2 linked regions of the Homo sapiens genome follow. The protein of the gene in region 2 interacts with the protein of the main gene of each other region in a pairwise test. Each region holds a gene or a part of one and is shown on either strand. Other genes may lie near its edges. The genes, in order: PRDM5 and VIPR1.

Evidence for each region.
Region 1: the proteins of VIPR1 (region 2) and PRDM5 interact in binary tests that used the Homo sapiens proteins (3 or more experiments, as listed by UniProt).

The regions. Positions count from the first base shown.
Region 1 is NC_000004.12:120,691,999-120,695,917, forward strand, and holds part of PRDM5 (PR domain zinc finger protein 5), read right to left. Parts: intron 3,278-3,919; coding exon 3,113-3,277; 3' UTR 1-3,112. UniProt on the Homo sapiens protein: Sequence-specific DNA-binding transcription factor. Represses transcription at least in part by recruitment of the histone methyltransferase EHMT2/G9A and histone deacetylases such as HDAC1.
Region 2 is NC_000003.12:42,533,383-42,537,301, reverse strand, and holds part of VIPR1 (vasoactive intestinal polypeptide receptor 1 isoform 1 precursor), read right to left. Parts: intron 2,328-3,919; coding exon 2,198-2,327; intron 1,960-2,197; coding exon 1,918-1,959; intron 1,213-1,917; coding exon 1,021-1,212; 3' UTR 1-1,020. UniProt on the Homo sapiens protein: G protein-coupled receptor activated by the neuropeptides vasoactive intestinal peptide (VIP) and pituitary adenylate cyclase-activating polypeptide (ADCYAP1/PACAP).

The sequences.
Region 1 (3,919 bases), on a different chromosome or scaffold from region 2:
TATATACACGCAAACAAATGTCAATATCAATGGTAAAATTTTAGGATTTTAAAGAGGCACATTTCCTCCTACCTACCCACTTCCACATATTCATTACTCTAAGATGAGTTTTCATAAGCAACATTTAGATTTGTGAAGGAAAAAAATGAATATTTCTAGTACTTATCCTCTTTCCTTTCATGCTTTTGTTTGAGAAAGGAAGCAGCACATAAAATCTAAAACAGAAACTAAGGCTGTAAGACCTTCTGTAATACATGTTCACACTCATGCATGAGTTGACTGTAATAGGTCAGAAGATATTTGAGCAAAGTAATGCACTTACATGTATATGCACTGCATATAAGTGATACTCTTCAGACACACACACACAGACACACACACTCATGTTTCTTGAAAATAACATGTTAACTATACTATGTAACCCCAAGAATTTATCACCAAGAATACTTCCATGGTGCAACTGCTGATTATAATTTACCAATAAATGCCTCTATATAGCCAACAACACACCATGAAAAGGAAAACAAAAGCCAGTTATTGTGAAACAAAGGCAAATTAAAGATACACAAACATCTTGAGTGTTAATATACTAAGAAGACAGTTATTATAAAAGGGTATCTGAACCCACCTACATTATTGAACGTCTCTTAAATTTACTTAGCCAATTTCTAAGTCTCAATTACTTAGACTTTATAGGCACCTAAGGGTCTGGTCTTTTCTCAAGAAAATACCCCAGCCAAAATCTTTCACAGCAGGAAACAGAAGACATTTCAAAGTAGGTACCTGTACTTCAGCTTGTCTGTAAGACTTTTCCTTATGATTATCTATGCTTTCAATTGATCAATCATGCCTAAAATAGTGTCTTTTTTTGGTTATTACTAAGTAATTTAAAAGTTTTAGCAAGCAAATGCTAATATATCTGAAACTACCCATGAATACTTGTCTTTTGGATAAAAATTTACAGCATACAAATAGTCTACTAAGGACTTGTTTTGGTTTCAGTCCTCTGAAAGGAGAGAGTGGTGTACCACTCTCTGGTGTAGGTCCTTCTACACCATTTTCTAAAGATTTCCATGTCTATAAACCTTCAGCAGGATAAAGCCCAGCACCTCTTGCCTGTCTGTTTACTCCACAGCATAGCGACACCACAGTTTTCAGGGTAATTTCCCCAGCAGCCATGTGAACTGTGACTCACTGAGATTACACAAAATTGGAATTTGGACTCCTTTCAAGTTTTACATTCATCACATAATCGGGATATAAAGCATCCCATATAGAGAAAGCAGCATTCAAAGAAATATACAGGATGTGCTTAAATAATACACACTATCAAATTTTACAGCTGTCTTTTTATATTCAAATGATATTAAACACACTATCATATTAAAATGAAAACACTTTAGATCTAAAAATATATTGTTGAAACAAATGATATAGTGAGAAACAAGACCAAAATTTATTTTTATAAAATACAGTCTATAATTTCAGATTCAAAATACTACATATAACTATACTTAAATATCTTCTAAACTATAATTTTAGGATTTATGTTTTTAAAAGTTATCTCTTCTGAGTTTCAAATTTAGTATTTTACAACATTCAAATGTCTACATTGAATCTTTATGTTTCTTTTTAAAACTGGAACTGGGCATGAATATAATTCTAAAATGAGATTCCTGAAGTCAAAGAACTGTGTCTCAGATAACCTTTCTCCTTAACTCATTAGAACCAAATAACTTCCTTAAAACTATACTTCCTTTCTTTTGACTGGGCTTCAGTTAGAGAGGTTCATGAGTTGGGCTTCATTTTAACGTTTTTCTGGTTTTTGGATATTCCTCCAGGTTATTTTGACATCACTATTACATTGTATCATATCATCTCTCCAAACAAGCTGTTCATTGTATGTTGCTGTCAAGTATTTTGCTGAAATATAACCTAAAGGAAGAAATTATGCTTCTTGCTTCAATTTCCCTTAAGCATCAGTGACAGTTTCAATCATAACAATTGCCAAGTTTGTACTTTGTATTCTGGATTCCTAATTATATGGGATGATTGAAGGTAATTCAAAAGTGTTTCAGAATTACCTACTGCCAAGATTCTGGAAAATGTCTTTTGCAAAATGGAATGTTAATGTTCTGAGGACTGTATCTGCACTAACATGTTCTGTGCACTTTTATGGAAGGAGAGGGGAAAGGGCTATGTTCATCCTAACAAATGTGGAGATGCCACTATTGTTCTGCCACTCTGTTGCCAAATACAGAGAATCTATTTGGTTTCTATTTTTAATTATATATATTGGTATACTGTTAATTTCTAAAGCTAAATGGTCTAAATTCAAGAGGGGTAGCCTGCTGAATATTTAAATGTGATGGTCATTTTTGTGTAGAACTTATAAAAGTATTCCAGACCATGAATGTCTGCATCTGAATGATGAGAATAAATAATGTTTCCTAAGAATCCTCTAAAATGAGCAATATTTTAATAGATGTTTTAGTTATCAAATATCTATTTTAAACTCATTTGTTGCACAGAGCTATTAGATAAGCTCAGCTCTTGGTTTGTCTTATAAAATAGCAACTATTTATTTTCCTATCAAACTTGAGACTTTGATAACTTATTCTTATCCTCATCTGCAAAGAAATAGTTGGATATCTTGATTTATTTCTATTTAAATTGGTAAAACCAGCTGCAACAACTGGCATTTGCAAGTGAGTGCACACACACAGACACATACAGACACACAGACACACAGACACACAAAGAATAACAATAAAATAAAAAGGCCTATTAGGGAAGTATATTATAAACTTCATTACAGAGGGATGGCCAAGAAAGAGAGCCATGACTCCTTTCTCCATTTTTATAAGACAGAGCACAAGTTGCATTTTGCAAGGCTATGGAGTTGTATTTTTTTTCCATTTATACCATTTCTTGTTAAAAGTAAGACTTTTTTTTGGTTGCATATGCATCTACAGACTCTAAATGTAGGCAAATAAGAACTATGAGACCAGTAAGTCACTTTTGGCTACTTCTGTTATGCTGATCAGGTGATAAAAATCTGGGATTCATATTAGGAGCCCTTCTGAATAGTTTAATTCCTTTACAGCCCCTATTAGCTGTCAGCTACACCATGGATATTGTCCATGTGCACTTTGAGGTAGTCATTCCTTGTAAACTTCTTATGGCAAAACTGGCATTCTGCCAGGGGACGATTGGGATTATGAGTCATCTTGTGTCGAATCAGCATTTTCTTCAGGCTAAAAGCCAAATCACAAACCTAGAAAAGACCCAAAGACCAACCATATTATACTGAAATAAACAAAATTTATAAACAAAATTTAACACTCACACTATTGGCAAAGAAAATTAATAAGTTACTGCATTTAATCGGTGTCCTTTGTACCCGAGTCACCCTTCCCTTTTCCCAGCTGCTGGATTTAAACATTTCCAGTGAAACAACTCCCTGGCAACAATACCTTTCTTATCCTAATGGAATGTATTTGCCATTTCATATTAAACTATTTAAGCAAAATGCTTTACGGTCTAGATGGCATCTCTCTCTATAACATAAATGGCATAAGACATTTCTCAGCAGTGATCCCTTCAGTTTAGTACCACTTGTGAAATAAAAAGCTAATGCTGTTTTAAGTATCATAAGCAGAAATTTATTACACACTATTTCTTTTTTCTATTTCTTATTATATACACTTTGTTTAACTAAGGAAGGTAACAAGTTTATTTCATATGAGCTCTGCCACATTCCCACCTGGCTCAACATGCATTAAACAGCCCCATAACTAAAAATATTAACACAGAAAATGCAAGGCACAACTGTCCAAGTTACCAAAAAAAATGGAGTTTAAAGTTTGATGTTATTCAGAAAAATTCCACTGACATGAAACTCTTCAAAATCATATCC
Region 2 (3,919 bases):
TACACAAAAGTTAGCAGTAAGAGTCCGTGCTTTCACATTCCTATCAGACAGATCTGAGTTCAAATCCTGTATGTGTAGCAGGGTGAGGTATCTGCTTTCTGTCAGAGCCCATGGGTGCACATCTCTGAGCCTAGTTACAACAGTTGGCACATAGGTGGGTGGACAAGGAGGGCAGCTCTTGATTCCTGTTGCTTCCACAGCACAGAGAGATAAGTATGGCTGGTGTGACAGATCCCACTTGACAGATGAAGCCACTGAGACTTGGAGAGCAGGTAGGCTTAGTCCGAGACCTAGCATTCGCTGGTGGCTGCCTTCTCATTTCCCAGAGGCTTCAGAGTCCCTCAGTCCTTGGGTTGCACCGTCCTCCCACCAGACTGACCCAGGGGCCAGTCCACTTCGGTGGGGAACCACTAAGATAGGTGTGCTCTCCAAACAAAAACTCCAGAATAACCCACTTTAAAAAGCTGATAACTAAGCGTAAAGAGAGAATAGGGTAGTGAGCTGCATCTTCAGTCAAATGCCTGAGTGGTAATGCTTAACCCAAAGGAACTTGACAGCAATGGTGAAATTTCAGGCACTACCGTGGTGTTGGTGCTGGTGACCTTCCCGGGCAGAACCTTTCTGCCCTCAGGTCACACCAGTGTTGTTTGAGGATCCACCGGTTGCTTTCCTCCAATTGGGCAGAAGAGCCAGCAGGGGGCAGAGTCAGGATGAAAGTATGTAGACTTTTTGCCCTTGATTGGCGTAGGGGGCCTTTGGAGGAGGAGTCTAATGACTGAGTTCCACCTGCAATCCTCCAGGAGAGGAGCTCCCATCTCTCTCACTTGCTAGAAACGCTCCAGGCAGGCTCTAGGGCTGCGTTCTCTAGGAGTGTCCGGACCAGAGACCAGGGGGCCGGGGGCAGCCTCCGAGCCCAGGGCCGGGGCTGGCCGCGCCCGGGCAGGCCTCTGTCCCCGGCGTCTGCCGGGGTGAGTGGGAAGGGGCGGGAGGGGCCGCCTTGGGCCCCTGGGATCCTGGTGGTCAGACCAGGGAGACTTCGGCTTGGAAGCTGGAGGAGCGGCGGGCACCTGGGCTGACGCGGGTCAGCATGGAAACCTGCGTGCTGCACGTGGCGCCGTTGCTGCCTCCCGACGGGTGCCGGTATTTGGGGTTCCAGCCCAGGACGCCCTGCAGGTGCCAGCGCCGCCACTTCCGCCTCAGCTCCGCCTGCACCTAGGAGAGGGGAAGGTGGTCAGGCCCACTGCTGTGGAGCCTCTTCCACTGCTGATTGGGCTGCCCTGGACTTAGGGTTCTGAACTAGCCAGTCTTATTCTCTTTAGGAAATCAAAATGGAGGGACCCCTATGCTGCCTCGGGCGGTGCAAACTTGGGACTGGGTTGAGGCCAGGTTCAGAAGGAGGCCTTGGAATGGCAGGAGGTAAGAGGCAGAGAGGATCCTAGAATACAGTCCAGGGAGAGGGAGGGATGCTGCCTAGGGGTGACTGTACTCCAATTCTTCCCATCCTGGGTCTCCAGCTCACTTGAGTGGGTTTTTTGTGCAATGTAACCAGAGCTCCACAGCAACTCAACCTTCATTGGAAGCCCTCATCCCTCCCCACTCACTGCACACAGCCACTTAACTAGGTGTTTCTCAAACTCTGTTGTGCACAGGAATCCCCCTGGGGTTTAGTAAAAAGCTGTTTGTTTGTTTTTTAAAATAATTATTAAAATGCAGATTCTAAGCCAGCAGGTCTGGGGTGGTCCCAGAGATGCGCATTTTTAACAAGGGCCTAGGTGACACCAGTGCTACTAGTTTGAGGACCATACTTGGAGCAGCAAGGTTTAACCCGTCCTTGCTCTGCACATATCCCACCAATGTTTCCGGACCCTGGTCCTGGGAGTTCCATTGCCTAAGCCCCAAGGACTGGGAGGGGCTTACCTCACCATTGAGGAAGCAGTAGAGGATAGCCACCACAAAACCCTGAGAAGGAAGATGACAGGAGAGGTGAGGTAGACAGACCAGAAGCCCCCAGCCCTGCCCCACCCCTGGCTCCAGCCCCTGTGTTCCCCTGGTTAAGGAAAGAGCTAAGCACAAAGTAGGTGCTTATCTAATACTTATTACAGTAAAAAGGTTGGAATCCAGTGGCAAGGGCCAAGACTCCAGGTTGAATTCCCTTAAAAGCCAGGGAAGAATGCAGCCTTAAGTCAACAGCCCATACCTGGAAAGACCCCACGACGAGCTCAAAGACCATCTTCACTTCAGGCTTAAAATTGTCCGGAAAGAAGGCGAACATGATGTAGTGTACTCCAAACAGGGGGATCAGCAGGAGTGTGGACCTGGCTAGCCTTCTGGAGACAGGGGAGGGACAGGCCATGGGTATGTGTGTCCACACATGTGGATATGATAGGGTGTGGCATGGGGGCAGCTGGAGGCACAGAAGATGGGGACAATGACCAGGAAGTATGAGGATGGACTGTAGGTTCCTCTGAATATTATGCCCTTGTCTGCTCCTGTTCCACAGCTGCAGTGCCTCTGCCCTTCTGCCCCCAGCCCTCCTGGCCTGGAGGGAAGCATGAGAGAGAAAGAAACCCCCTCTATTCTCACCCTTCTGGAGGAGAGAGGGTAAGAGGTAAAGGAGAGGCCAGTGAGAATGATGCTAACAGGGACATGTTAGCTGAAATCCACTATTGGGAGTTCTGTTGCCTGGGCCCCCTGGTCTAGGAGAGGCTTACCTCATCATTGCAGTAGAGGATGCTCTCAGCCATCAAGAGCAGTAGAAAATCTCTTAGGCAACAAGAGATTCTGGTTCCTCCTCTCCTGGTCTCAGTTTTTCCAATTTGTATAATGCAGTAAGTGTATGCTCGACATAGTCAAATTATAGAAACAGAGGCCCACTATGAACTTGGAAGTGTTTTGGGTACTATGAAGTATAGTGCATCCATGAGAGACCATGAGAGAAGACGTACTAGGAAACAAGTCTTTCTAACTGGGTGCTGACCACATATGCCCAGGGCCACTTGGGAGGGTGATGGGGACCCAAGTTCATACCTGATCACCAGGGACAACCCAAAATTAATCAGTATCGCCCTCTATCTGTGTTTTTTCTGCTGTGTCTGCTTCTCCAGAAGTTGCCACCTTCTCTGGGGTTGCATCCCCCTCCTCCTACCTCCCCACACCAGTGCATATACTCCCAGCGTGCTCTGAAGGACCAGCTCCTTCTTCACAGCTTTGTGTGCTCAGTAGGGTCAGCATTCATTCTAAATGCTCACCCGCCTCCCATGGCCCAGAGCTCTTCCTGGTTCAGGCCTCCCAGCCACCTGACCTCATAGCTGATCCAGGCAGTGTGAACCCATTGCTCCCTGGCTAGGAGAGGTGGGGTGTGGATAGGGAGGGTCTCTGACTCTGTCTCTCCTGCCTTAGCAGTCAGTCCAAGGAAGTCTAGCCCAAGGCCTGAGGTCCCACAGCAAGCTGGGGGCAGAGGAGCTGGCCTTGCCCCTCCCACTCCTTCCTGGACCTGGTTCTCAGCCATGCCAAGATCCTGAGCAATGCCCACCCCTCTTCGGCTGCAAAACTATCCCACACACCGGAGGCTAACAGATGGAGGCTTTCTTTAAATCAAAGGCTTATGGGGAGGTGTAGAGTGGGAGCTGACAGCTTCTCCTTGAGGAGCTTCATCTCCAACTGCCCCCACCCCTTTTGCCTGCTGACAACTGTTTCCTTTCTGTCTCACCACACAGACCTGGCCCTGACCATGGCCAGCTCTGTTTGCCTCAGATTCAGGCCCTTTTGAACCATTGTAAGTTGGGGGAAATAAGGTCCCATCGGCAAAGGAGAGGATAAGGGTGCACAGGCCCGATGTGCTGCCCCTCAGCAGACTGCAGATGCCCCCCCCGTCCCCCCCAGCCTTTCCTTCTCAGACAGGAAGGGAAGCTCCGCCTAC